Homo sapiens: one gene and its partners. The protein of the gene in region 3 interacts with the protein of the main gene of each other region in a pairwise test. Each region holds a gene or a part of one and is shown on either strand. Other genes may lie near its edges. The genes, in order: PDCD2, GAS2, TBC1D21 and SEPTIN2.

The links.
Region 1: the proteins of TBC1D21 (region 3) and PDCD2 interact in binary tests that used the Homo sapiens proteins (3 or more experiments, as listed by UniProt).
Region 2: the proteins of TBC1D21 (region 3) and GAS2 interact in binary tests that used the Homo sapiens proteins (3 or more experiments, as listed by UniProt).
Region 4: the proteins of TBC1D21 (region 3) and SEPTIN2 interact in binary tests that used the Homo sapiens proteins (3 or more experiments, as listed by UniProt).

The regions. Positions count from the first base shown.
Region 1 is NC_000006.12:170,581,629-170,589,196, reverse strand, and holds the start of PDCD2 (programmed cell death protein 2), read left to right. Parts: upstream 1-4,559; 5' UTR 4,560-4,615; coding exon 4,616-4,898; intron 4,899-5,449; coding exon 5,450-5,692; intron 5,693-6,008; coding exon 6,009-6,140; coding exon of another isoform or gene 6,141-6,169; exon of another isoform or gene 6,170-6,931; coding exon of another isoform or gene 6,932-6,939; exon of another isoform or gene 6,940-7,568.
Region 2 is NC_000011.10:22,662,563-22,669,627, forward strand, and holds the start of GAS2 (growth arrest-specific protein 2), read left to right. Parts: upstream 1-4,048; 5' UTR 4,049-4,337; exon of another isoform or gene 4,338-4,632; intron 4,633-5,545; exon of another isoform or gene 5,546-5,773; intron 5,774-6,133; exon of another isoform or gene 6,134-6,281; intron 6,282-7,065. UniProt on the Homo sapiens protein: Required to maintain microtubule bundles in inner ear supporting cells, affording them with mechanical stiffness to transmit sound energy through the cochlea.
Region 3 is NC_000015.10:73,876,539-73,883,564, forward strand, and holds part of TBC1D21 (TBC1 domain family member 21), read left to right. Parts: intron 1-4,860; coding exon 4,861-4,968; intron 4,969-5,105; coding exon 5,106-5,209; intron 5,210-7,026. UniProt on the Homo sapiens protein: Acts as a GTPase-activating protein for Rab family protein(s). Essential for the establishment of male fertility, and is required for both the production of normal sperm number and sperm function.
Region 4 is NC_000002.12:241,318,902-241,325,927, forward strand, and holds part of SEPTIN2 (septin-2), read left to right. Parts: intron 1-1,301; exon of another isoform or gene 1,302-1,386; intron 1,387-5,314; coding exon of another isoform or gene 5,315-5,331; coding exon 5,332-5,340; intron 5,341-7,026.

The DNA of each region.
Region 1 (7,568 bases), on a different chromosome or scaffold from region 3:
CCAAGTTCAAGTGATTCTCCTGCCTCAGCCTCCCAAGTAGCTGGGAGTACAGGTGCGCACCACCATGCCTGGCTATTTTTTGTATTTTTAGTAGAGACAGGGTTTCACCATGTTGGTCAGGCTATCTGCAGCTTTTAACAATTGAGTAACACATACTCCTATGAACAAAATTTGGAGCACATTTGGTTCTCTCTACCCGATTTCTCCAGAATTTGGAAACTGTAAGTATTCTTAACTTATGACAATACAGTTATTTGCATAAGTGCACTAATAATCTGTTTTCATTTGTAACAGGACACAATTGGGGAAACTGGTTGTTTACCAATGCTTTTACTTGACTTACGGAGCCAATTAAACCCCCTTGGAAAAACCGTCCTCATAACTTTGTCTACACAGCTCCTGTACAGGGTTCCTGACCTGTGGTAAGTAAAGAATGTCACTTTCTGACAGGCCCAGGAGCCTCAAGTTTATCTTGGAACCTCAAGAGGAGAGGATCACCAAACTCACAGGTATTTGATGGCACAAATCCATGGCTGGGCTCAGCTTTTAAAAAGTCTTATCTGAAATACCCTCTATGGAACAAAGTTCCATCAAAGCCAATTTAAAAGCCAATGTTAAAAAATAATTATTCTTGCTGCACTGTATACAAATAATTCGGCCAAATATAATAAGGCAAACCTATCATGATTTGTCTTTAGTATAAATGGGAAACTAGAGACTGGAAAACTATAGTCCACCAGTTGTTAGATTCTAGTCTTGCCTAATGTTTTTCAATTTTTATCATTTTCTACAGTTTGGACCAAATTCTAATTTTTGTGGGCTACAAGTCTTCAAAATAATGTTTTCAATTTTTTTCCTTCTTTTTTTCCCCATTTTTCCTAATTTGGAGTCACTTAAAACTAAGCTGTCACTAAACTAAGTCACTTAAAACTAACTTTCGTGAAGCCCTGTGAACTGAAGTAGACAACTTAAACTTCAGAAGAAAATAATGGGAACCTATTTACATACATAAGCCACTTTCATACCTGCTTACTGATGTATGGACTTCAGAGTAATGTGGCCTAGATCAATTTTCCAAGATTGTTCTTATTGTTCTCCCTTCCTCCCCAAATTTTCTCTTGATAGGATATTAGACTTCACAACCTTCTAAAAATGAGCTTTCCTAATAACTCAGGACCTACCCTTCTAGGAAAAAACCATCCTAGCCATGAGAGAGCAGATAAAACCTGGGAACAGAAACTTATTTTCTTCAAAAATGCTTTCTCCAAAATATTTTAAAAAAGAAAAGGGGGGAAATGTGAAAGGAAATTACCTTGGAATCCCATAATCACTAAGCTAATGGGAAAAGTCAAGCTGGGAACTGCTTAGGGCAAACCTGCTTCCCATTCCATTCAGTCATCCCTCTGCTCACTGAGATAAATGCATGTCTGACTGCCTCTTTTAGAAAGGTGAATCAGAAACTCAAAAGAGTGCAACCATTTGTCTCTCACCTACCTGTGACCTGGAAGCCCCTCCCCACTTCGAGTTGTCCCATTTTTTCTTTGAGTTGTCCCACCTTTCCTGACCAATATTCATTTTACATATGTTGATTGATGTCTTATATCTCCCTAAAATGTATAAAACCACCCTGTGCTCTGACTATCTTAGGTACATGTCGTCAGGACCTCCTGAGGCTGTCATAATCGTGTGTCCTTGACCTTCGCAAGATAAATTTTCTAAATTAACTGAGACCTGTCTCCAATTTTTGGGGTTCATACAGGTTAAATTGTAAAAGATCTGTGTCAGAGGAGGAAGTCCATTCAGAGGGTTGGGGGGCCTTATTTTATTTTTGGTTTATAGGATTCTGACCCTTTTTATTATTTCAAGTTGGCAATGAAAAAAACAGCAAAAGTATATAGGACTAAGGATTCTAGGCTGGGTACAGTAATTCACACCTATAATCCCAGCACTTTGGGAGGCCAAGGTGGGAGGATTGCTTAAGCCCAGGAGTTTGAGGCCAACCGGGGCAACATATGAGACCTCGTCTCAAAGAAAAAAAAAATATGTAGAAAACTAGAGAGGATAAATTAAAATTCCAATAAGAAAAATATATTAACCTGGAAACCTACAGGAAATGGGTGATTGCCTAATAAAAATACACATGAACAAAAGGAATCCTAAAATAAGAAACATACAAATAGGCCAGTTAGTATAGAAAAGCTTGGAATGATGCTTAGACATCTCTCACTGGAAAAGACCCCAGGGACATACAGATTCAGAGTTAAGTTTTAACTGAACTTGGTTAAATTTGTTGACCTTCAGCAAATCCTGATTTTATTTAAAATGGTCAAGGCCTAGTTGAGGGAAGGGGAAAGAAGTGATTTTCTTCAATTACTTTTACGGTATAATTTCTGTGAAAGGAAAATAAAACTCAGGACCACAAAATCACTAAACCAAAGGGTAAAGTCAAGCTGGAAACTATGTCAGGCAAACCTGCCTCCCATTCTATTCCTAAATAAGATAGCTGCCAAGATAAGAGGCTACGTACCTCCCTTAAAATTTGCCCACAAGGAAATTCCTTGTGGATAAAGGACAGACAGAACTCAAAGTTATCCCTTTAAGGTGCGCCTGAGACAAATGCATATCTAATTGCTTCCCCTCCCCTATTGTTTACGTAAAAATGATAATTCACTGAGCCAGACTAAATTGTGTATTCAGTGGAAGGCTGATCAAGGACTCAAAAAAATGCGATCTTTTGCCTCTTATCTACTCATGACCTGGAAGCCCTCACCTCAAGTCCCGCTTTACCTGACTAAAGTACATCTTACACATACTGATTGATGTCTCATGTCTCCCTAACATGTATAAAAGCAAGCTGTACCCTGACCACCAAGGGCACATGGTCATCAGGGCCTTCTGAGGCTGTGTCACGGGTGCAACCTTAATCTTGGTGAAATAAACTTTCTAAATTGATGGATGCCGGATGTGGTGGCTCATGCCTGTAATCCCAGCACTTTGGGAAGCTGAGACGGACAGATCAACTGAGGTCAGGAATTCGAGACAAGCCTGGCCAACATGGTGAAACTCTGTCTCTACCAAAGATACGAAAATTAGCTGGTTGTATTGGCACACACCTATAATTCCAGCTGCTCAGGAGGCTGAGGCAAGAGGATCGCTTGCCTGGGAGGCGAAGGTTGCAGTGAGCCGAGATCATGCCACTGCACTCCTCCAGCCTGGGTGACAGAGCAAGATGCCATCTCAAAAAAGAAAAAAAAAAATTGATGGAGAGTTAACTTTTGGTTTACAATGTAAATGTTTATTTAAAAACAGACATTATTTTATGTACCATTACAAATATACTGCTACCCAGCTGCTCGGGAGGCTGAGGCAGGAGAATGCTTGAACTCGGGAGGCGGAGGTTGCAGTGAGCCGAGATCGCACCATTGCTCTCCAGCCTGGGCGACAGAGCGAGACTCCATCTCAAATAAAACAAAAACAAACAAATATACTGCCAACTAAACTGTGATTTTGTCAAAAATAAATGTTGTTGATGACTTTACTTCCATTAAAGCCACTGTAGTAGCCAAGGGAAAGCTTCCTTTTTGTCCTCTGAAGGTTCACTGAAAAGTCAACTGACAAAAGGCACATTAATTGGAGAAAGGGCATACAAATTTATTAACATGCACATGGGGGAGAACCAGAGTGATTTTGCTGAAGCCCCAAATGGGGTTCAGAAACTTATATACCATCTTGAGGTTACAGAATGGGGGTTTGGATTGTGGCATAACAGGTTATGCGGGTGGAGACCTGGCTGACAACCACGGTCTTGTTATGTAAATGAAACCTCCTAAGTAGAACTCCTTAAAGAGAACAGGTGGTACATGTTTCTTTCAGACCTTTGCAAACCAACAGTAAAATTCTAAACCCTCCAACCGACTGATGGACCCTCTGCTTGCCCAAGGGCATTCTGAAGTTAACCTGAAAAACTAGTTCAGGCAATGATGGGAAGTGGGGGTTGGCCATGCCTCATTATACACTCCTCCCTTGGAATTCAGGTACAGCAAGCCAGCACTAACATTAAAACAGAGACCTTAAGACTGACAGAAAAGACTCTTCTGCAGAGGCTTCTTCATTACTCTCAGGCACACAGGATTCTTGGTTTCCGCTGTAGGGTCCTCACTTTACCTGTTCAACCTTCATTTGTCTTTCACTGCCTACTCTTGGTTAGCACTCGGCCAGCGCACAGGTTTCCCACACCCTGAGGTGGACACCAGCAGGGAAGGTTTGCGGGAGGGCTCTGCCTCCCTGGCGGCCACCCGCAGGCCCACAGCAAGACATGTGCAGAGGTGAGCGGAGCGCCGTCACCAGCTGCCACTCTCCCAAAGACCAGAACCATCCCAGAGCACCCGGAGGCACCAGGAAAGCGGCTCGGAGGCAGAGGCGCCAGGGGCGGGGCTGATGCCGAGAGGTTTCCTCTGCCCCGTTCCCTCGCATTGGTCCTGCAACCGCTCCCGTCAGACGCGTTTCCGCCTCCTGTCCTCCGGAAAGGTGCCCGCCTCTTGCCTTCCGGCCCGGCGCCCGATTTCCGCCTTCCGACCCAGCTGTGGGCTGCGCCCCACGCCAGCCCGCGCCCCGCATGGCTGCCGCCGGGGCCAGGCCTGTGGAGCTGGGCTTCGCCGAGTCGGCGCCGGCGTGGCGACTGCGCAGCGAGCAGTTCCCCAGCAAGGTGGGCGGGCGGCCGGCATGGCTGGGCGCGGCCGGGCTGCCGGGGCCCCAGGCCCTGGCCTGCGAGCTGTGCGGCCGCCCGCTCTCCTTCCTGCTGCAGGTGTATGCGCCGCTGCCTGGCCGCCCGGACGCCTTCCACCGCTGCATCTTCCTCTTCTGCTGCCGCGAGCAGCCGTGCTGTGCCGGCCTGCGAGGTGAGCCGCCAAACGGGGTCGGGACGGGGCCATGCCTCCGACGCGTGCGCGGCGTTAATTCCGGGAGCGACCAGGGGGACGGCGGCAAGCACCGCTGCCGCCCCAGCCTCAGAGCTCCCTCTCCGCGCTGCCCCAGGAGCACCTTCTCCCGGGCCCTTCCAGGATGTGCTCATTTTTGCTACATAAGCTTCTAACTGTGCCCACGCGCATTGGTAACCCCCAGCTTTTAATCAGTGGGTACCAGGTATGGTGTTAATTCAGATAATAGAAATTGTCTTGGAAAGATGGATCCCAGTAGCTTTTTCGTATTTTTGGCAGTCGTTCTTAACGATCAGTCTTATTAATTTGATTAACTCAAACCACCTCTAGGAGGCAACTCAGTTGCGTGTACCGGACGAAATCTAGTTTCTGGATTTTAAAAGCTTATTCCTGAAAGCAAAAACTTTCATTTCTTTTTTGTTGTTGTTATTTTCAGTTTTACGTGCAGAGGATAAAATATGTGAATTGCTGTTTTGTTTGAAGATAAAACTTTTCTCTGTATTCTTTTTTAGTTTTTAGGAATCAACTACCCAGGAAAAACGATTTTTACTCATATGAGCCACCTTCTGAGAATCCTCCCCCAGAAACAGGAGAATCAGTGTGTCTCCAGCTTAAGTCTGGTGCTCATCTCTGCAGGGTTTGTGGCTGTTTAGGCCCCAAAACGTGCTCCAGATGCCACAAAGCATATTACTGCAGCAAGGAGCATCAGACCCTAGACTGGAGATTGGGACATAAGCAGGCTTGTGCACAACCAGGTGGGTAATCTTTTTTTTAAGTCTCAGTTCAGTTTCATCGCCTTTGTCAACCCAGATATTTCCAGGACAACTTTAAAGGTAAAATTAGGAAAGGTATAGTACTTTAAAATTTTTCATGCCTGGAACACCTTTGTAAAAAAAAAAAAAAGGCTGTGAAGTCTGAATCACTGAATAATGTCACCATATAGGCATTTAATTTATGACCCTTTATCTAAAATGCCAGAACTATAGGGAATATAGTACTTTAGAGACAGCAAATTATTAGACTGTCTTCAAAACTAAATGATTACTAATAGTGCTGTCCTTTTTGTTTCAGATCATCTGGACCATATAATTCCAGACCACAACTTCCTTTTTCCAGAATTTGAAATTGTAATAGAAACAGAAGATGAGATTATGCCTGAGGTTGTGGAAAAGGAAGATTACTCAGAGATTATAGGGAGCATGGGTAAGCAGTTTCAGGACTTCATTCATTAAGTGGTTAAACATAATACTTGGAAGAAAGGGCTCCATGTGCCTAGAAGAGAGGTACTGAGAGGAAGACTCACTTTGGAGGCTGTAGCATACAATTTTCAGATATTGCCTCAGGTAAAAATATACTTCCTGGACTTTGTTTTCTGACACATAAGAGGTGTGTTCTGCTCCCTGTAAAGACAAGGGTGGGTATCCAGATGGTCCCATGAGTAGGGCTGCACAAGATGCTGGAGGCTTGGTAAGTTCCTCTGGGTCGCAGATCGGTTTCTCGGGTCGGGATAGTGTGAGTGCCTAGCACAGTGTCGGGCACGCAGAAGGGCCCCTTAAAAGTTTCTCTTTCATCTGGCCAGTTTTAGATACACAATTTTGTCAGTTTACTTACAGTGCATACTCTTGGGTAGTACTTGTGCTGACCAAGTATCTTAGAGGCTTATTTTATTATAGTAGCCAACATTTATCCAGCACTTACCTTATATAAAGGGCTGTTTGTGCATGAGCTCATTAAAATCGTGACAGCAGACCAATGAGTGAGAAACTGCCCCATTTTGAAGGTGAGGAAATTGAGGTTCTGGGTATAACTTTCTTTGGTCACATAATATTAAATTTTACAATTTGAGCCTTGAGCCATACACAAAACCACCACAAAATTAGATTTATAGACTCAAAATGAAAACATCAGCTTACTGGTTTGTAGTTCATACCAGTCATACATTCCAAAACATGTTTTGAGTCTTACTCTGTGCCTGACCTTGTGCTTGATAACAGGGATATAATGGGAAGCAACACTCCAGTGGTCAGATGCTCACAGTCTTATGGAGGAGCCCAAATAATATCTGGGGAAGTTAAAGTCCATATAATGACTGATAAGAGTACAATACAGGTGCCATGGGAACACGTGACATCACTGAAGACTGCCTGGAAGGGGCCGCGCGTGTGTTCATGCCTATACGATAAACATGATACATAATGAAAATGCTTATCTTTAGGAGAAAGGAGAGCCTAGAGTAGCAGGATCAAGGATGAAAGCTGGACTTCAAATATGCCTTGTTAGTGTAAATGTGACTGTGGAACTGTATGAGTATTTTAAGATTATGGAGTAAAGTAAGTTTTAAAAAGCAGTCCCTAATCATCAAAAGTAAAAAACTCTTGATGTAGTCATATAACCACACTAAGAACTCTTCCAGGTGACTTCAAAACATAGGACAGTACATCTCTAGTAGAATATGCCCTGAGAATGAAAAGAATGTAACAGTGTTAGTATTTTGAATAAACATGTTATTACTAGACTGTTGCTTTTATTTTGAGATGGTTGTGTGTGTATTGGGGGGAAAGGAAACGAGTAATTATGTTGGTGTTACTGAGAACTGAGATGTTGGGCGTAGGAGGAAGATAATGTTGATTG
Region 2 (7,065 bases), on a different chromosome or scaffold from region 3:
TTATATTATACTTGAGGTACTTGTGATTAAAGTAACATGACATAGACTTTTTTAAGATTTAGAAGCAAACTACAAGATAAAGAAAGAAAGAAAACTTAAAAAAAAAACACCTTCAACTTAGACAACAGACGTCACACCACAGAAGGTACTGCATAGGATATTTAAAACTAGATGAGGCAGGGTGTGGTGGCTCATGCCTCTAACCCAGAAACTTTGGAGGGTTGGGGTAGGGCATCATGTGAGGCCAGGAGTTTGAGACTAGCCTGGGCAACATAGTGGGACTGTGTCCCTGGGCAACATAGTGGGACCGTGTCTCTGCAAAAAAAAAAAAAATAAAAATAAAAAATTAGCCACAGTTGGTGGCTGTGTTAGTCTGTTTTCACTGTGCTATAAAGAACTACCTGAGACTGGGTCATTTATAAAGAAAAGAGGTTTAATTGACTCACAGTTCTGCATGGCTGGGGAGGCCTCAGGAAACTTACAATCATGGGGAAAGGCAAAGGGGCAGCACGGCATGTCTTACATGGCAGCAGGAGAGAGAGAAAGAGAGAGGGGAAGTGCCACCCTTTTAAAACCATTAGGTCTTGTGAGAACTCCCTCACTATCATGAGAACAGCATGCGGGAAACGGACCCCATGATCCAGTCACCTCCCACCAGGTCCCTCTCTCAACATTTGGGGATTACAATTCTAGATGAAATTTGAATGGGGACATAGAGCCAAACCATATCAGTGGTGCTCACTTGTGGTCCCACCTACCGTGACACTGAGATGGGAGGATAGCTAGAGCCTGAAGGTCAAGGCTGCAGTAAGCCATGGCAACGCCACTGCAATAGCCCTTCTCAAAAAAAAAAATAAAAAAATAAAAAATAAATGAATAAAAGTAGATAAGACAAATGGCATATTTCACAAAATGATTTTTAATCTATTTCTTATGTAAAAATTAGAAAACATATGCTTATACCTAACACAATTTGCCAGAAAAAAATGAGTCTTGCACAGGAGGGAATTAATATTTATGCTACTGTTGTGTTGTACTTAAAAAGTTTAAAGTTCTCCACTGAGAGTAAAGTAATAGATTTTTTAAATTGCATATTAGATGGAGAGTAAACCTTGAACTTTACATATGAAATTTCTTTGATTTATCCTTGTAGTTTTATATATGAATGGTGGTGAAAAGTAATAGCATTTATCGTTTAAAATTTCAGAAACAGTCTGTTTTTATTCGTAACACTATTTGTAATGACTATGCTAGGATTTATAAAATTTATTCTCTTTGCCTTATGACATTAAAAAACTATAATTCAAAATATGTCAATTGAAGGCCTTATATTATAGACTAAGATGCTAGGTTGGGAAAAATAAACATATTTGACCTCACTGAGGAAGTATGTCAACAAAATGTAAGTAAATGATTTAAGTTATTATTAAATATATGTCTTCATGTATTTTTTAATACCATTGCATGTCTTCATACTGCTTTCTGTATCATTATTCTCACTTGCTTCCCAAGCTGTCTTTTGTCATTTTTAACTGCTCCTTTGAAGCTGTTTAGGAATATAAGTCTTTCTTGGTCACTTCTGGAAATTTATTTTACCAAATTTAACCCAGTGGCTGTTTCCGTGTTATTTAATTTTTTCTCAAAGTGTCCTCTAACCTCAATCATTTATTGAAGGTTTGCTTCACTTTTCAGAGTGAGTACTACATATATTATTTTCATTTGGGAGAAGGACTAAGAGAGAAAAGGAGAGTTATCTACATAGGAGGGAAAAATAACGTGTTTTATTGATCATTTTTAAACTCAAAAAAGTATTTATTAGAGAAATGAGAAAATTCATGTTTGAGACAATGTTGAAAGTTTAGAATGTGGGACACACATAGTAATGCAGAAATTTCCCGTGTTAAAGTCCTCTAACTGTGATCACTTGAAAATAAAAACTAAACTGTTTAAATCTGGCTTGACTTCTTTTTAATGGTGTTAAGTTTCAAGGATGTATTTAAACATTTTTCATCTTATTGAAGTATTTGCTTCCTTTGCATTCACATTAGAGAAGCTATAGTTGCTTCAGTTGGACTACATTTTCCTAAGGTGAACAGTTTGGGTTGAGTCCACACTAAACTAAGAAAATACTTAGACAAAAGATTATCTTTGACAAATATATCAGTGAGTGATCAGAATATATAAATAGAAATATTGATTTTGAAAAACAAGATAAAAATCAAATGGGAATTTTTACATATGCTAAAAAAATTAAAATAAAAACACTGTATCCGTGTCTCTTCAGAAATCTTTTGTATTACTTCTCTTTTGTCACCAAAAAAAATATTCAGTACAACTCTTAGATGTTAATGAAAGAAAAAACACATTATTTATTTCTTCTCGTATTTTTCTTTTCGCTCTTTCTGAGAGACAGAGGATCTGACATAATGCAAAATTTAAGACAAAAAAAAAAATACCTGGAAGAAATGAGCATGGAGAGGGAGTAATTTTGAATGATTATGCTTTCCCAATTCCTCTGTAAGCCTCCTTTTTTTCCCCAAACTGTATTTAGCATTGTTCCTGAATCAACAAAAACATTGCCTTACTCTTAGCTTTTTATAACACCAATAATGAACAATGTGACAAGAATATTCATATCTGGGGAGAAATAGGATGTAAGATTTTGAAAGTTCAAGGTGCTAAATTTTTTGAACTCATTACATATTTGGATAATTCTTAAATTAGCATTTATTGGCTGATGATGTTTTGATCAGGAAAAATTATCAAGAACATTTGATTTTTTACTAAATTGTATGTGTTCAGACACTCAAAATTCTTTGTTGGGGCTCTAGGAATACTCAGATCTGATCACATTTTAAGAAATTTTATCATTCAGATTCGTTTACTAAAACTCATCAGTAATGAGTTCTGTATGTTTTGTTGTTATTTATGTTTATCCAAGCTGTTATGTTGACCTTTTAAAAATGCTGTTTCTCCTTAAAATTAAGAATAACTATTTTTCCCTTCTTTTAGAAAGCTAAGGAGGAAATGTGGACCTGATAGCTGCAAAAGCAAATTGAACTAAAATAAAAAGTTCGGAGTTCAAGGACTCCAAACTTTTCAATCGGTTTTCTCTTCTTCTTTATTAAATGTATTGCCACTAGAAGCAAATAACTGATGCAGTTTCTGCCAGATAATGGCAATAATAAAGGTGAAATGTGAATATTTTTTAAATTATATCTAAAATCATCCACATCATTTAGCTTGTGGATGTACAGGTAGTTTCTATTTGGGAGTGGGGCTAGGTAACTCATCATTATAAAAATGGTATCCAAGCAAGGATCACAATACCTGTACCACTGCCATTGTAAACATTGGATGGCAATATACATGAAACTGATGAACATGAGAACAAAACAAAATAAAAAGTGTAATACATTTTATTTATGCTCCATGGGAGGTGGTAACCTGTGGGGATCAGCACACTCAGCAAGCGGTCCCCGCGCATTAGAGGTGAATCAGACACTTGAACATCTGTCCACTTCATGGAAGACGTTTCATCTCAGAATACACGTACTAATAAACAACAGTTGGAGACAATTGTCTCTGACATTCAACATAATGCTGAGCTGAGGCTGAAAGAAGGAAGGGTGGAATTGTATTTCCTTTGGTAAAGCAAAAACAGCCGTGAGTACAGCCTCTTCTAAAAATCTGATATTTAAAGAGAATTGTAAGACATCAAAATGTTCAATTTGGAATGAAGAGTGGCCGAAGTTACTGGAAAGCTCGTGCCTCCGTCTGCAAAATCACTGGCCAGGAAAGCAAAAACTTTTCCAACACCCAATTTTAATATTGTGCTAAAGCTATTGACTCTGTTAAACCTCTAGAGTTAAATATGATCCCCTCCCCAGCCCCCACCTTTTCTCTCTTAGGTTAGTGTCTGGGGGACAAGGAGGGGGCTGGAGCTTGGCCCCAACCTCGGAATTGCTGCCAAGGGCTTGTAATACAATCTCTCCCCGTTTGAAGGGTAAATCAGTGTCAACTGCATTTGCGTCCACCAAAAAAAGTAAGCATTTTACTTCCGCTCGGTCTATGAGGACTGATGAAATGTAGGAAATCTGTTTCTGGCAGGGAGAAAAAATCGTTTTCCCAAACAGCACTAAAAGGAGCCATCAGAGAAGTATGAAGAGGGGTAGTGCGGCTGTAGCTGCTGCCGCTGCCGCCAGGCTGGTGGGGTGCGGGGAGCGGCTGCTGCAGGACCTGTGCCTGGAGGGGGCCGGCCCCGAGAAGCTGCAGGAGCCCAGCCCGGAGCCCAAGCGCCTCTGAGAGCCGCCAGCAGCCCAGCTCGGGACGCGGGGGTGAGCACGACTGGCTGGCCCAGTTCTGCGCCAACGCCGCCGCAGCGTGCGCGCACCGCAGCCGGGGCTCACGGGAGCCCCTGCCTGTCTACTGCACCCGGGGCGGCGGGGGAGGGGAGAGGTCATTAAAAAATAACCTCAGGAACGAGGCGGGGAAGAGTGAAGAGCCGCGGACAGTTGGACAGGCTCTTTCTCTAAGAGTGGGTATTCACTGCAGGGGGTGACTTTCTGATTCTCTGGAAACAACCATGTGTTCCTTATCCCTATTGCGGAACACCCCGGACAACCGCAGCACGTAAGCCCGCTGGGGTGGCTCTGCCAACCAGGGACAGAGTGAGGATTTTTAATGAACACATCGATTATAAATGCACACATATGCATTCGTGCACAAGAGTATCTGTAATGCATGCTCAGCATTGTCTGTTATGGTGGGGTGGGATAGAGCCAGAATGGTCTTAAAGGGCTGATCCTGAATGTTTTACTTGAGTCGTTGAGGCCAGGATGGGAGGAAAGAGCGCCACATGTGTGATCTGGGGTGATACTCACTGTGTCTGATGAGTTTGATGAAATTGAGTTTTATGTGAATAAACAAACGCTAGCCGATATATATCAACACACTTTGGGGAGATTTTGCGTGGTATCGTTCTTTTTGTTCAGTCCAAAGTTGAGACTGGAATCTGAAATTGTTTGGGGAACAAAGGAGGCAATTTTGCTTTGGAGACATTATTTATACTGGCAAAATTAAATTCTGTCAACTCAGTATGGTAAATTACCATTAACTTAGCCCAGGTATCCGAAGAAGTTTCCATTGTCTTGAATGAAGAGGGAGCAAAAGCGAGGGTTAACAGATTCTGTTTCTACATTCTAAAAACAATTGAGGTTGGGGGAGGGTTGTTAATTCTTTTCCCAGTTAACCTTTTTGAAATCACAGTCTTTACCCTCTCCATCTTCTTCATCTTCATCCTCTCACCTCCGTGATCTTCTTACAGTGAAGAGTTTGCAAAACTTTATTCTTATAAAATTATCTCCTCCAACCCTCTCCAACAAGGTTAGATCAGTTGTGTATGAGAGATCTTATGCCAAGGAAATAAGATCTGCTTGTGCACAGGAACACCCATTTGACATCCTAGTATTAAAATAAAGGCTTAGACAGTTTGGATGTACCAGCCTGGCAGAGGAAGTCCACTTTTCCTCCCCACGTATCCCCTGAGATTCACAGAGGCAAGGCAGAGAACAAGACCTGTGCTTCTTTACTCCAAACTCTTAGCAGTGTGGACACTGATTAACTGCAGCTGGGGTCTGATTTGCCCAGCCTGTCTTTGATATTGATCAATGAACTCCTTCTCAAGGAATGCTTTCCTCTAACTGCGGTGAAGGTGGTGGCTCTGGTGGTTCTCTCCAACATGGGTGTCTGGGTTTTGACTGCCTAAGAGAAGGTAAGGGACAGATGGATGAGGCATGGGACAGTGTGCCTTTGCAAAGCACATTGGAGACTTTGCACAGGGCTGCCTGAATGGTCCCTTACATGGAAAAGGTAGCTTGGATTTCAGCCTGAATGCTACTGAAGTTTGGGTTTATTTCATTACTTTATTGCTAAACACTATGCTGTGGTGTTATGGACTGTGCTTTACTGGGAAATAAGTTCACATGGCAAAAAAATATTTCACCAGGTGCAAAAGGTCATGTGATTGCCCTGGAATTTTTTAGCATCTTGGTTAGAAACTTCAGTTAAACCTCAAACTTTCGAGTATGGTGAAATACCTGGTCTTATATTAACCCTAAGTATGTTGTGTGTTACTTAGAAATCTTACTTCAAGACTGGAAGTCTGCATTGAAGACTCAGGGAAACTTTGGAAAACTAAGTTACCTTGGTTGAGAAGGCATGATGAGGCTGTAACTGTTTACAGAGAGACTTTTGTTTAAAACTGCAGGGCATGTTGTAAGGTTGGTTTGGTATCTTTGTGGTTTTGATATTAAGGTCCAAACAGGATCCAACTGTTTCTTTAAACCTGAGCAACTAGGAAGGTTTCCACTCAATGTTTTTTGACTAGAGAAATGAACTGGAGTAACAGTAGAAAATAATCTGCTGTCAAAATTAAGTAAGAGGCTTATGTAAGTTTCTGTATTAAATGTTTTCAGCATCAATACAATTAAAACTTTGCTAATTTTACTCCTTTATGTGAGACCATGTCACATATGTGTATATATTTCCACAGAATGTAGAACCCTGCTGGTTCTTAACTACATTATAGTTAACTAAAACAGAAATCTTTATATTAAAACAACAGAAAAGAATTTTCTCAACTTAGATAAAATTTTGATGTAAATCCTTAAATATTCTAGTTGTTAATATTGTTAACAATAGTCATTAGACTGTCATTAGACTGTCAGATGGTTTTCTATTTTAATTATGTTCCAAGCTAATCTGGTAGGGGTTAAAAAAACCTATGCTAAATTGTTTGGAAGGATGTTTTAGTATGATTTCTTTAAAACTTTAAAATATCCCTAACAACATGAAAATATAGAAAATCAATTCCCATTCAGGTTTTTTTAAATCATGATTTGAGAAGAAATTGTTATTTGTAACTACACCATCATTTCACCCAAGACAAATCAAGATGGGACTGTGGGATAAGAAAGAGATCTCTAAAAGAGAGTCAGCACTACACTAAATTAAGGATCACAAGAGCTGAGTAGGATACTTTTAATAATTATGACTAAACAGTCT
Region 3 (7,026 bases):
GGCCGAAGCAGTGACTTTTTATAAACAAATTCAACCACGGCAAAGTAGGCAGATGGCCAATTGTTACAGGTAGAGGTTTAGAAATGCAAATTCTCTGAATACTCAACAGATGTCTTCTTGTGATGTTTCTAATTATTTCTGCCTTATTGCGTTGATGCTGTATCTTTTGTTACGGTGTGCGGTGCATATTACTTTAATTTCAATATTACCTCTCCATTGTGTTTGACTTTTTTTCGTATCTTTGTTCGTCATTTATTTTTTAATCATTGTAGGGCATTTGATTTTAAGGTATTTCTTTTGTTCACAGCTTGTGTAAGATACATATTTTTTATTTGAGTGGAAAATCCTTGCCTTTTAATTCCTTCCCACTGCCCCTCCCACCCCCAGCATGGCATTAGGGTTAAGCCTCTGACTGTTGCATCAAACAGCTTAGGGTTCAAACTCCAGCTCTGATACTTTCTGTATCTAATCTCAGATATGCTAATTAACCCTCCTGTGGTCTCAGTTCCCTGATCTGTAAAACAGTACAAGAACTTTACCACTTCATAGATATTTGCGAAGATTAAATGGGTTGATATATGTAAAGTGCTTAGAACAGTGTCTGGCACATCATCAATTGCTTTTTAATGTTTACAGCTAATAAGAGAATGAAATGCATTTATTTTCATAATTAATTGCTTTGGGTTTCTATCATTTTTATGCTTTATACTTTTATTAATTCCTTGTTGTTTCCTATATTGCTTGCTTTTATTTTTTAAAGTGAGTTGGAAGATGTCCTGTTCCTATAAATTCCTAATTTTTAAAGTAAAAAATAAAGCAATTTCTTTTGACTCCATCCTAATATCTAATAAAGAAATAGAATCTGCAATTAAAAACTTTCCCACAAAGAAAACTTTAGCCCAGATGGCTTCACTGGTTCTACCAAATATTTTAAAAAGAAATAATACCAATTCTATACAAACACTTCCAGAAAACTAAAAAAAAAAAAAAAAAAAAAAAAAAAAAAAAAAAAGAAATCCCTACTCATTTTATGAGGCCAACATTACCCTGATACCAAAATTAGAGATCTTACAAGAAAAGAAACTCACAGGCAAATGATTCTTGTGAACATGGATGCAAAAATTCTAAATAAAATTTTAGCAAATAGAATACAACAATGTATAAAAAGCATAGTATATCATCACCAAGTGGGGCTTATCCCAGGAATGTGAGGCTTACTTACCATTCAAAAGTACTCAATATAATTTACCATACTAACAAACTCAAAAAAAGAAAACCATATGACCATTTCAACAGATGCAGAACATTATTTGACAAAATCCAACATCCATTCCTAATTAAAAACTCTCAGCATGCTAGAACTGGAAGGGACTGTCTTCAACCTGATAAAAGGCATCTGTAGAAAGCCTAGAGTTCACATCATACTGAACTGTGAAAGCCTGAATGCTGCTCCTCTAAGATGAGGAACAAAGCAAGAATGTCTTCTCTCACCACGTTTATTCAACATTGCACTTGAGTTCTAGCCAGTGCAGTAAAACAAGAAAAAATAAATAAAAGGTATTCATACTTGAAAGGAAGAAGTTAAACTGCCTTTACTCACAGATGAACATGCTCATCTATGTCAGAGTTGGCAAATTTTTTCTGCAAAGGTCACAATAGAATTTTTGGCTTTATGTCCACGCAGTCTCTGTTGCAACTACTCAACTCTGCCATCATAGCATGAAAACAGCCACAGACAAAAATGAGTGGGTGTGGCTGTATCCTAATAAAACTTTATTTAGAAAAACAGATTGGAGGCCACATTTGATCCATGGATCATAATTTGCTGACCCCTGGTCTATGTCAAAAATCCCATGGAATCCACAAGAAAGCCACTACGACTACTAAGTGAGTTTTACTAGGTTGCAGGAATACAAGATTGATATATAGAAGTACATTGTATTTCTATTAGAAATTTAAATTTTAAAATGATACTTTTTACAGTAGCATCTGAAATATGAAATACTTATGGATAAACTTGACAAAATATATGAATGACCTAGACACTGAAAACTACAAGACACTGCTGAGAGAAATTTTAAAAGACCTACATAAACAGAGAAATATATTGTGTTCACAGGTCAGAGGACTCAATAATGTCATCAATTCTCCCAAACTGGCTTACAGATTCAATACAGTCTCCACCAAAATCACAGCTGCCTTTATTATAGAAATGGACAAATTGACTAAAATCCTTATGGAAATGCATTTCTAAAGTTAAAGCATTTCCTTTTATAGTTAAGGATCCCGGGACACAGCCCAGCTTTGCCTGTTCCCTTCTGCTTCCTGCCACATTGCATGCTGAGTGTTGCAGTTTCTGAATGAGTGTAGGTTGGGAGAACATGATGACAATCAGAGGGGCAGAAAGCTTGCTCTGATGAGTGGCAGTGTCTATGCAGGTGGGGAACACATCAGGGCAGACCCTGCTTCCCAGGGTTAGGCCCACACCGAGATTTGTAACTTCTTGGCCCATGTGTCCTATTTTGGTTCAGATGACAGGGCATACATGAGTTATTAAAAATGTGTTTCTCAATCCATTTCCATCAAATATACAGTTAGTAGAAATTATCCCAATTTGGAGCCTGTAGGCTCTTATTTTTAGTTAACAATGCTGCTTTGCCTTCATTTATTTATTTATCTATTTATTTGAGAAGGAGCCTTGCTCTGTCACCCAGGCTGGAGTGCAGTGCCATGATCTTGGCTCACTGCAATCTCCGCCTCCCAGGTTCAAGCGATTCTTCTGCTTCAGCCTCCTGAGTAGCTGGGATTACAGGCACCCCGCCACCACACCCAGCTAATTTTTGTTTTTTGTTTTTTTTTAGTAGATATGGGGTTTTATCATGTTGGCCAGGCTGGTCTCGAACTCCTGACCTCAAGTGATCTGCCAGCTTGGGCCTTCCAAAGTGCTGGGATTACAGGCGTGAGCCACCATGCCTGGCCTGTTTTGCCTTCTAATACTTTACTACTCATGTGGTTTGTGGACTAGCAGCATCACCTGTTACTCAGGAGCTTGTTAGAAATGCATCATCTTGGGCCCCACCCCAAACCCTCTGAATCAACTCTGCACCTGCAGAAGATCCTTAAGTGATTTGTACGCCAATTTAATTTTGAGTCACATATTCAGATGTATACTAATGGGAAGTTGGGAGTGTGTATATTTACATGTCTACTCAGCTCTGTCCATCAGCACATCTTTATGTCTGCAATGTGGCATTTCAAGATATTCTTCTCTCCAGCAGAAGAGAGTATCCCAGGAAGAAAGGAATCTTCTCTTATTCCAACAGGAACCCTCACTCCTGTTGTTGTTGTTGTTGTTGTTGTTGTTGTTAGAGATATTATTATTATTATGTGCTCTGTTGCCCAGGCTGGAGTGCAGTGGTGAGATCTCGGCTGACTGCAACCTCTGCCTACCGGGTTCACGTAGTTCTCCTGCCTCAGCCTCCAGAGTAGCTGGGATTACCGGCATGCGCCACCATGCCTAGCTAATTTTTGTATTTTTAGTAGAGACAGGGTTTCACCATGTTGCCCCAGGCTGGTCTCGAACTGACCTCAAGTGATCCACCTGCCTTGGCCTCCCAAAGTGCTGGGATTACAAGCATGAGCCACTGCACCTGACCCTAGTTATTATTTTATAAGCATTTTGAATTACTTTGCATGCAGTGCACTCACCTCTCTCCAACACATACACACACACATGTTCACATACACATAGCACACAGATATATACCACACACACACACACACACACACACCCTTATCAAAAGCAGAGACTATCTCTCATAATGAACCATTCTACATTTCCAGGAAAGGTAAAGTGGAGCTCATAACTGTGTCTAATTAATGCTTATTTTATATTTTCCTGTGATCAAAGCAGTGTACATTATTATAGAAAATTTTAAAAATACAAGAAAGGCCAGGTGCGGTGACTAACGCCTGTAGTCCCAGCACTTTGGGAGGCTGAGGCAGGTGGATCACCTGAGGCCAAGAGATCAAGACCATCCTGGCCGACATGGTGAAACCCCCTCTCTACTAAAAATACAAAAATTAGTTGGGTGTGGTGGCGCGTGCCTATAGTCCCAGCTACTCAGGAAGCTGAAGCAGGAGAATCGCTTGAACCTGGGAGGCAGAGGTTGCAGTGAGCCGAGATCCACCACTGCACTCCAGCCTGGCGACAGAGTGAGACTCCGTCTCGAAAAATAAAAAATACAAGAAAAAGGATAAAAAGTACTTATTTCCTATCACTCAGAGATAATCACTGCTGTTTTTAGTGGGGGAGAGGAACTTTTTTGTATTTTCTCAGTCTTTTTCTAACAACTTTATAGTAGTCAATGCATTATATATTAGAGTTTATGTGGGGTATTATTATAATATATAACGGACACAATACATAGGTATTACTATGAGGGCCATAGTTGTACTATATAGTACATAGAGAAAATGCTAGATATACAATTCTGTATTCTGCTTTTTTCTGTTAACATTTGTATTTTTTCTGATTATTATTCATTCCTTGTAAACAACACTTATATGCCTCAAAATATTCCATTAAGCACATAAACCACAGTTTACTTAACTACCCCCTTATTGCAGAACATTTAGAGTGCTTGCATTTTTCATGTTGGTGAGTAATGTGCATGAAAATTATTGTGCATACAGGATTTTTTCTATATATTTTCAGTAATGTCCTCAAGATAGATTTCCGAAGTAAGTCAGGCTGTGCGCTTTGATACATATTGCAAAGTCCAGAACATATTATTTAAAATCACACTTAAAAGCCGAAGCCTTCTAACATAAGGCAGAACTGGTTGCTGCTTTTGCCAGGTGAAGAGAAAACCACCCATTGACAAGACAGAATGGGACAGCTTCTTTGATGAGAGTGGCCACTTGGCCAAATCACGGGACTTCATTTGTGTTAACATCCTGGAAAGGGTGGGTCCCCAAGCTACCCTTGGCCTTGCCCTGGAACTGGGAGCATGGATGGGCAGGGGGCAGGTGTGGCGTTGGATGAAGCCCTTTTGGTAGGCATCGATAGAGCCCATGACCTCCACCTCCCACCCCCACCCCAGGGTCTGCACCCCTTCGTGAGGACTGAAGCCTGGAAATTCCTCACGGGCTACTTCTCATGGCAGAGTTCCCAGGATGAGCGGCTCACGGTGGACAGCATGAGGAGGTAGAACACTCCAGACCCTGCTGGGACAGGAGGGGGGCCTGCAGGTGGCAGGTGCTGCCTCCCCAGCCTGCAGACTATCTTCTGCCCCCATGCAACTTCTTATTCCGAGAGGAACCCCATGCCTCCTGACCCAGGCACAGCACACAGGAGGTGCGGCCAGTTCGTGCCAGTGCCTTCTCTCCCTGAGCTCCATTTACCAGCCCATCAACTGCCAGGCATGGGCTTGGTCCCAGCCACTCCTCTTACCCCTGGGCCCCAAGTCCCATCCTTCCTTATGGCCTATGCATTCTTCCTCTGAAGCAGCCCTTGAACAGAGTCTGCCACCCTCTTCCCTGGGTGCCACCCCAACTCCACCTCCTCCCTGCCCCCCATGGCTGAGCTGCCTCCCGGGTCTAGTCTCCCCACTCCCTGCCTGTGCCCACTGTTTCCTCCCGGTGCCCAGGGGAAGGTACAAAACCCAGTATGGGCTGCCTGTGTCCTTAGATGAAACACTCCCAGTGGTGTAACTGGTAACGTTTCAAATAGCACATCTTCTCTTCCAAAAACTTCCTGATCCTAGCTCCACATCGCCCACTATCCCAGAGCCTGACATTCCAACCACACTGACAGCCTCACTGACTCCTCATCTGCCCACTCCTGCCCCAGCACAGACCACGTTTGCACTCCCCTCTGTCCTTGGTTCACCCTTTCTCCTCCCTCCACAATGGCTTTCTATCATCTGCCTATCAGTAGCCCACCCTTCCTTCAAGGCCCAGATCCCACAGTATACCTACTCCAAGCAGCCCTCCCAGATCTCCCAAGGGAGCCAGGGATGAGGCACTTTGTTTCAGTAGATAACACACCATCTTTGAACTTGGACCGTCTTGGATTTGGAAACCGGGTTCAAATTTCAGCACTCTGATTTACACCCTGGGTAAACTTGCCCATGAACTTCAGTGCTGAAGTCTCAGTCTCCTCCTCTATAAAATGCAGGTAACAATCTATTTCACAGAGTGGTTGTGGGGGCTCAATCAGATAATACAGGTAAGGCACCTTGCACAGGGGAGGAATCAGTAGCTTTTATGATTTTGATGGGAATCCTCCCTCCCTGAAGCCGGAGGCCCTTGACTTGCACTTCCATGACCCTGGGCACTTGGTCCCACAGTAGTGAGAACGGAGCCTGTGTCTTCCCTCCCAGGTTGAATGCAAACAAGGGCAGAGGCTGCAGCCAGTTTGCCTTTGTCTTGGGCCCTCTCCTGACCTTGCCTGTCCATGGGAGGGCTCCGTACACACTGGCTGAGTCAGACTGACTCCACTGCTGAAAATCTTCCCATCAGAGGAACGGACTCCTTTGGATTGTGGCTGCATGACTATGTAGCCTGGGCTGGACTCACCTGTCTGGGAGCCTGAAGCAGGGGCTAGGCCCAGCCCCAAGGGAGCATCCAGACAGAATGTGGAAAAGATTCACGTGTCGGGGCCAGCCAGAGTGACCCGGGGTGGGACGGGGGTGTGAGGGCTGGGCTAGGGAGCTCAGAGAGGTTCAGGAGCTCTGACAAGAGCCCACCTGTGTTCATTTCCTGAGGCTGCCTTAGCAAGTACCACAAACTGGGTGGCTTCCGACAACAGAAACCTGTCTTCTCGCAGTTCTGGAGCCAGAAGCCCAAAATCAAGGTGTTGGCTCCTTCCAAAGGCTCTAGGGTAGAACCCTTCCTTACCTCCCAGCTTGTGTGGCTCCCGGTGTTCCTCAGCTGGTGGCTGCCTCACTCCATTCCCTGTCCCCATGGTGGTGAGACCTTCTGCTTTCTGTGTGTTATAAGAACACATGTCATTGGATTTGG
Region 4 (7,026 bases), on a different chromosome or scaffold from region 3:
TGGCCAGGATGGTCTCAATCTTTTGACCTCGTGATATGCCCGTCTTGGCCTCCCAAAATGCTGGGATTACAGGCATGAGCTACCGCACCCAGCCGAGTATTTGTATTTTCTGTGTATTCAGTCCAATCAGCAAAAAAGTGTTTTCTTTTGATTTTCTTGTTTCATTATATTCAGTAAACTCACCAAGGTAGTATTAAATAATCATGGTGAAATTGCAATATCTGGATCTTACTTGGATCTTGATTCACATGAAAAAAATGAGAGAATAGAGAATATGAATACTGATTGGATATTTGATTGCATTAAAGAACTAGCTATGTGTAATGGTTTGTCATTTTTAGGAGCCCTTATTTTTAGATATGTGTAGTGGAATATAAATGAAATGTTACATCTCGTATTTGCTTCATAATCATCCAGGCAGTGGCATTGATGATTGTGGAAATAGATGAAACATTATTGACCTTCAGTTGCTAATTGTTGAAGCTGGATAATGGATAGCACATGGGGGTTTTGTTTGCTTTTTGTATAGGTCTTCATGTAAAAGTTTTCATGTAAGTGCTTAAAAATAATTATGGAAGGGCATTCCTGCCGAATTATCGGTTGTAATTTAAATAGATTTAATTTTCTATTGTTTAGAAAACAGTATTTGCCTTTGGTTTTCAGAAATATCCTGAATTAGATTTAAGCAGTTTTCCTTTTTTTCTTTTTTTGAGACAGTCTCACTCTGTCACCCAGGCTGGAGTGCAGCAGCACCATCTCGGCTCACTACAGCCTTCACCTCCTGGGCTCAAGGGATCCTCCCACCTCAGTCTCCCACTTAGCTGGGATTACGGGTGCCCGCCACCACACCCAGCTAATTTTTTTGTATTTTTTGTAGAGACAGTGTTTCACCATGTTGTCCAGACTGGTCTTGAACTCCTGAGCTCAAGCGCTCCTCCTGCCTCAGCTTCCCAAAGTGCTGGTATTACAGGCGTGAGCCACCACACTCTGCCAGCAGTTTTCTTACTGTTTTCATTATGATTGGTTGCTGAATTTCATATGCCTCATCAGCATCTATTAATGCATGATTTTTTTTCCCCTATACTGTGTTGTTGGATTAATATTGGTAGATGCTTTTGATACATTCCTGGAATCTAATTGCTAGCAAATATTGTATTCAGGATTTTTGCATTTATATTTGTGAGTGAGATTGGCCTATGGCGTTCATTCATTCCTTTGTTCCTTTCTTATGTCTCCATCTGGGTTTGTTATTAAAACTGTGCTGTCTTCATAAAACAAATTGTTTTCCCTTTTCTCTGTAGAGGCTTGGAATAGTTAAATGACTTTGGTCTTGTCCAAGGTTAGATGGAGTTCAACTCTAACGTCAAGTCTTGGTCCTTTTCATTGGTATGTCTTTAATCAGCTGCTTAGTGATACTTGTTTTAGTCAGATTTTCCAGTTTTTGGTTCTGTATTGGTAATTTACAGTGCCCATTTTTTCTGCATTTTCAGATTTGGGGCCATTTTGCTACATGTAGTCTTCTCTGTCATTATTTTAGCTACTTTTCTATATTTGCTATTTTTTCCTGAATTGGGCTTGTGAGGAATTTGTTTTAGAAAACCAGCTTTTGCGGCCAAGCACGGTGGCTCAGGCCGGTAATCCCAGCACTTTGGGAAACCAGGGTGGGAGGATCACCTGAGGTCAGGAAGTTTCACCTGGCCAGCATGGTGAGACCCCATCTCTACTAAAAATACTAAAATTAGCTGGGCGTGGTGGCGGGCACCTATAATCTCAGCTATTCCGGAGGCTGAGGCAGGAGAATTGCATGAATCCAGGAGGCAGAGGTTGTAGTGAGCTGAGATCGCGCCAGTGCACTCCAGCCTGGGCAACAAGAGCAAAACTCCATCTCAAAAAACAAAAAGAAAACCAGCTTTTGGATTTGTTTACCCTTCTTTTTCCCCCCCTCATAATTCATTTTTTCTCTTTATTGATTTCCTGTTTTATCTCCTAAGTTTTGCTTTTATCTTCCTTCCATTGCTTTCTAGAGATTGCTTATGGCTTTGCTTTTGTTACCCTCCTTGATCCTGGGGATATCCAGTAATGTAACAAATTACTGGGAGTTACTTTTCATCTTTTTCCACCCAATTTAAGCAGATAATTATTTGAGAACATTGACTGTAAAAATGTTTTTCAAATTTTGTTTAGGCTTTTTTTTATGGTAGATACATGACTTCAAACATTTTTTAAGGTATTGATTCAAATTTCTCTATGTCTGCTAAATCAGATGTATTTGTTGTATTACTCAGTTCTTCTCTGTCCTTGCACATACTGTGTTTACTGAATCTGTCCGGTTCTCAGAGAACTCTATTAAAGTTTCTCACTTGAATTTTTTTTTTTAAGTTTGTATTTTTCCTAGTCCTTGCTTTATGTGTTTATCTACAGTGATTATTTGAATATACAGGCTTATGAATATTACATCTTCCCTATAAATTGTTTCTTTTATCATTATAGCTTGTTATCCCTGTTATTCTGCTTATTTTTACTTTAATTCCCACCTTGGCTGATAGTAGTGTTGTCTCTCCTCCATGTTTGCACTAGCCTGCTATTTTTTACCTTGTCCCTTTATTTTCAGCCTCTCTTTGTTCCTTTTGCTTTAAGCATATACGTTATAGCTGGACGGTTTGTTGTTTTTGTTTTTTTTTTCCCTTGGTTTTTCAGGCCAATCTGTCTTCTCCTTTAAGCAGAGAATTTGGTTATTTCACATTTATACTGATAACTGATATTCTTGAATTTTGTCCCCATTGTCTTGATTTAGGATTACTTCTGATTTTGTTTCTTCTTGTTCCTTTTCCATATTTTTGCTGGTTTGATGAAGTTGCTGTTTCCTCCATATTTTTCTCTTAATTTGGAAGTTCTCATTGTTATTTTCTTTAATGATTACCTTTTTTTTTACTTTCATAATCAGATACTTATCTCTGTATTATTTGAAAACGAGATGCCAACTCCTTCTGCCAAAACTGTCTGTATTACATCTGACCCTTCTCTTTCCCTTTAGGAAGTTCTACTCCTCCACACTCACACTTGCTCTCAATTCTTAGGTTTTGCTGAAATTAAAGGCTCTTGAACCTTACTGCTACTATCCCTTGGTTAACCAAGCCAAATAACACTGGGGATGCAGGGATCTCATTTCTTCCAAAGTAGCTGGGAACATTTCCAGTCAAAAGGGAAACAGAGGACACAGTATTCAGGAAGTTAAGATTTGGGGGAGGGGAATCGAGAGGCAAAGTGAGAGAAGCTTTTTAATAAGTTTCTAAGCTCCAGAGGGAACCAAATTTGACAGCAGTCATCTTTCTTGGGGTTGTTACTGAAGGTTAGCCAACAGACTCCATGCTTTCCAAAGCTTCAGGGTTTCTAAAATTTGTTTAAAAATTCCACATATCTCTGGCTGGGCACAGTGGCTCACACCTGTAATCCCAGCACCTTGGGAGGCTGAGGCGGGCGGGTCATGAGGTCAGGAGATCGAGACCATCCTGGCTAACACAGTGAAACCCCATCTCTACTAAAAATTAAAAAAAAATTAGCCGGGCATGGTGGCGGGCGCCTGTAGTCCCAGCTACTCGGGAGGCTGAGGCAGGAGAAGGGCGTGAACCCAGGAGGTGGAGGTTGCAGTGAGCTGAGATCACCCACTGTACTTCAGCCCGGGAGACAATGCGAGACTCCGTCTCAAAAAAAAAAAAAGAAAAGAGAAAAAAAAATTCCACATATCTTTAAAAATATTGTCACATTTTTCAGACACTCAGATGCCTTCAGTACTATTTCCTTTCCTCATAAATGTAGTTCACATTGCTCTCTGTACCCCAGTGTCAAAATCTAGTTCTCAGGTAGCTCTAGGAAACTCCAGTGGGTGGCAAACATGTTCAAGTTACAGTGCTCTATGTAATGAAGTCCCTTACTCCTTGAAAGGTTTCAAAGAGAGAGGGGAAATGACATAATTCCAGAGGTCAGGGAAGTATGTATCCGTGTGTATCCCATTTGTGTCCCTAGTGTCTAACATATAGTCAGTACTGAAAAAAAATTTGAATATTATTGAAAATATGGAATATGTGCGTACATATATATATACAGTTGCTTTTATCAACTTAAAAATTTTTTTAATTTTTTAATTTTTTGTAGAGATAGGGTTTTGCTATGTTGCCCAGATTGGTGTTGAATTTTTGGCTTCAAGCAGTCCTGCCTCTGCTTCCCAAACTGCTGGGATTACAGGCGTCAGCCACTGCACCCAGCCACCATCTAATTTTTTTTTTTTTTTTAATGGAGTCTCACTCTGTTGCCCAGGTTGGAGTGCAGTGGCATGATCTCGGCTCACTGCAACCTCCGCCTCCCAGGTTCAAGCGATTCTCCTGTCTCAGCCTTCTGAGTAGCTGGGATCACAGGCACGCACCACCACGCCTGGCTGAATCAGTATTTTTAGTAGAGACGGGGTTTCACCATGTTGGCCAGGCTGGTCTTGAACTCCTGACCTCAAGCGCCACCATGCCTGGCTGAATCAGTATTTTTAGTAGAGATGGGGTTTCACCATGTTGGCCAGGCTGGTCTTGAACTCCTGACCTCAAGTGGTCTGCCTACCTCGGCCTCCCAAAGTGCTGGAATTACAGGCGTGAGCATCACGTCTGGCCTAATTTTTTTAATCGAATTTATTTTTGTAATGATAGATGCTTGTCTTATTCCTAGGGAAATATTTGAAGTAATTGAGATGCTGTCACCTAAAATAATCAAAAGGCTCCTGATTCAGTTAAAAGAATTCATTTAAGTACAGAGTGTAAGCGAGCTACACCAAAGAATGGTGATTAGCGCTCCCAGGGTGGGGAAAAATGAGGATTGTTTATATAGGCAAAATGGAGGTGCCAAACAGAATTATAACATTTTCGGAACTAAGGCTCATTTAAAGATACAAATTTGATTGGCTACTATTGATTACACTTGAAGGGATTTGTTTAACTTCCTTTTGTAAAGAAGTAACAGTCATAAGGATCTCTCATCTCCCAGTCATTTAGTCTAGTTTTGAATAAAGAATAGGGGGTCTGGTTAATATATACATCTAAACACAAAAGTCAGAAAGAATAAAAGTAGTGATGTTACACGAGCCAGCTGTCAGTGCTTAACTTTTCCCTTTGGCCTAATGCATTTGGAAGGTCCTGAAATTGTATTTTCTTTTTACATTGCCTATGTATGTGTAAGTCTTCTTCAGGTCAGTTCACGCTGTTAAATATACGTGCGTATACATACATACTATGTATGTGCGTTTATGTGTGTCTGTGTGTTTTTTTTTTAACAGACGAAGCTTCACAAAAGATGTCTAAGGTAAGATCATACTTCATGTATCTACAGCATAAGGAGAAATTGCTTTATGTTTTCAGACTGTTGACAGTCGGGACTTATATGATTCATTATTTTTAATACAACTGATACATTTGATTCATTAACACAAAGAGTTCTAATTTAGTTGTCTTTTTTTTTTTTTTTTTGAGACGGGAGTCTTGTTCTGTCACCAGGCTGGAGTGCAGTGGCATGATCTCAGCTCACTGCAACTTCTGCCTCCCACGTTCAAGCGATTCCCCTGGCTCAGCCTCCGGAGTAGCTGGGACTGCAGACACGTGCCACCACGCTGGCTAATTTTTTGGATTTTAGTAAATTCGGGGTTTCACCGTGTTGGCCAGGATGGCCTTGATCTGTTGACCTCGTGATCCACCCGCTTTGGCCCCCCGAAGTGTTGGGATTACAGGTGTGAGCCACCGTGCCTGGCCTAATTGTCATCTTAAAAGCTTGGAGCTTTCTCTTTTTTCAGGCTTCTACTTTCTTTTCTCTACACACATCAGTAACAGTCCTTTTGGCCCCCTTAGTTCATTCCCAGCAGACCAGATAATTTAGAATTCTGATAATTTATTATGATGAAATTGATGGGGCTCTTAGACTTGATAAATTGGTTTAAATCAGCCTTTGCAAGTTAGTTCAGAGATAAATTAGTGCTAAAGAACATATTCTGAGAAAAGCAGAACTTGTGGTTAACATTGCAAGATTATTATTTCTGTTTTTTTTTTATCTTTGAATCCTGTGGGTGTTCATTACTGTCCAATGCAAAATCATCATACCAGTTTTTGCATTTTATACCAGTGTTAGCATGGAACACAGATAAGCAAAAAAAAAAGTCATTATTTCACCACTCAGGAATAACCACTGTTAATATGTTACATATATTCTTTTTCACCTGTGTGTGCATTTGACTATACATTTACAAAATGTAATCCTAAAGGAAATACTATTTTGTATCTTGCCTTTTTCAATTAATAAATTGATTTTTAAAATTTCTTCTCATTTTCAGTATGCCACTGTCTAGATTCTGGTTACTTCTGCTATTCTTGCCTTCTCATATCTCTGTCCTCTCTCTCATCAGATACCCTTCTGTCAAGGAATATTGATGCTTCAGTGTAGTCATCTATGATCTTCTCATTCTGTCTTTTCTTTCTTGGTCTTTGACACTAGATACTCAACATCCCACCCCTAATTTGCCTGCCTCACCCTTGATGAAACTCTGTTCTATAGAGCTAGAAGCACAGCAAGAGAGATGCTTTTTTCCTCGATACTTTTCAGAAATGCATTGCACCTAATACCTGGGAGAAGCTATTCTTTAGCCAAGTTTGTTGAATGAAACCATTCATTCAAAGTACTGTCAGCTGTAGCAGTACTTTGTAAGCTTGACTGATTTTCCTGGAACTCCATAGTCTCTCAAGTCGAAATTTGAAATTGCATTAAGATGTATTAAGCATGTATCTTCTATGTATTGTTAAATTCCTAAACAGAATACTGATTAACAAAATGTTAATTTTCAGTCGCATACAACTAAGGAGTTATACTAGATAAGTTTTTCTTTTTTTAATGCTCCTAGTTGAATACTACTGGTTTTCTGATAGAAGTATGACCTTCTGGAAGTGTTTATACTTTTTAAAAAATTTGTGAAAACTGATAACCTATGTTTGTTTCATGTCTAAC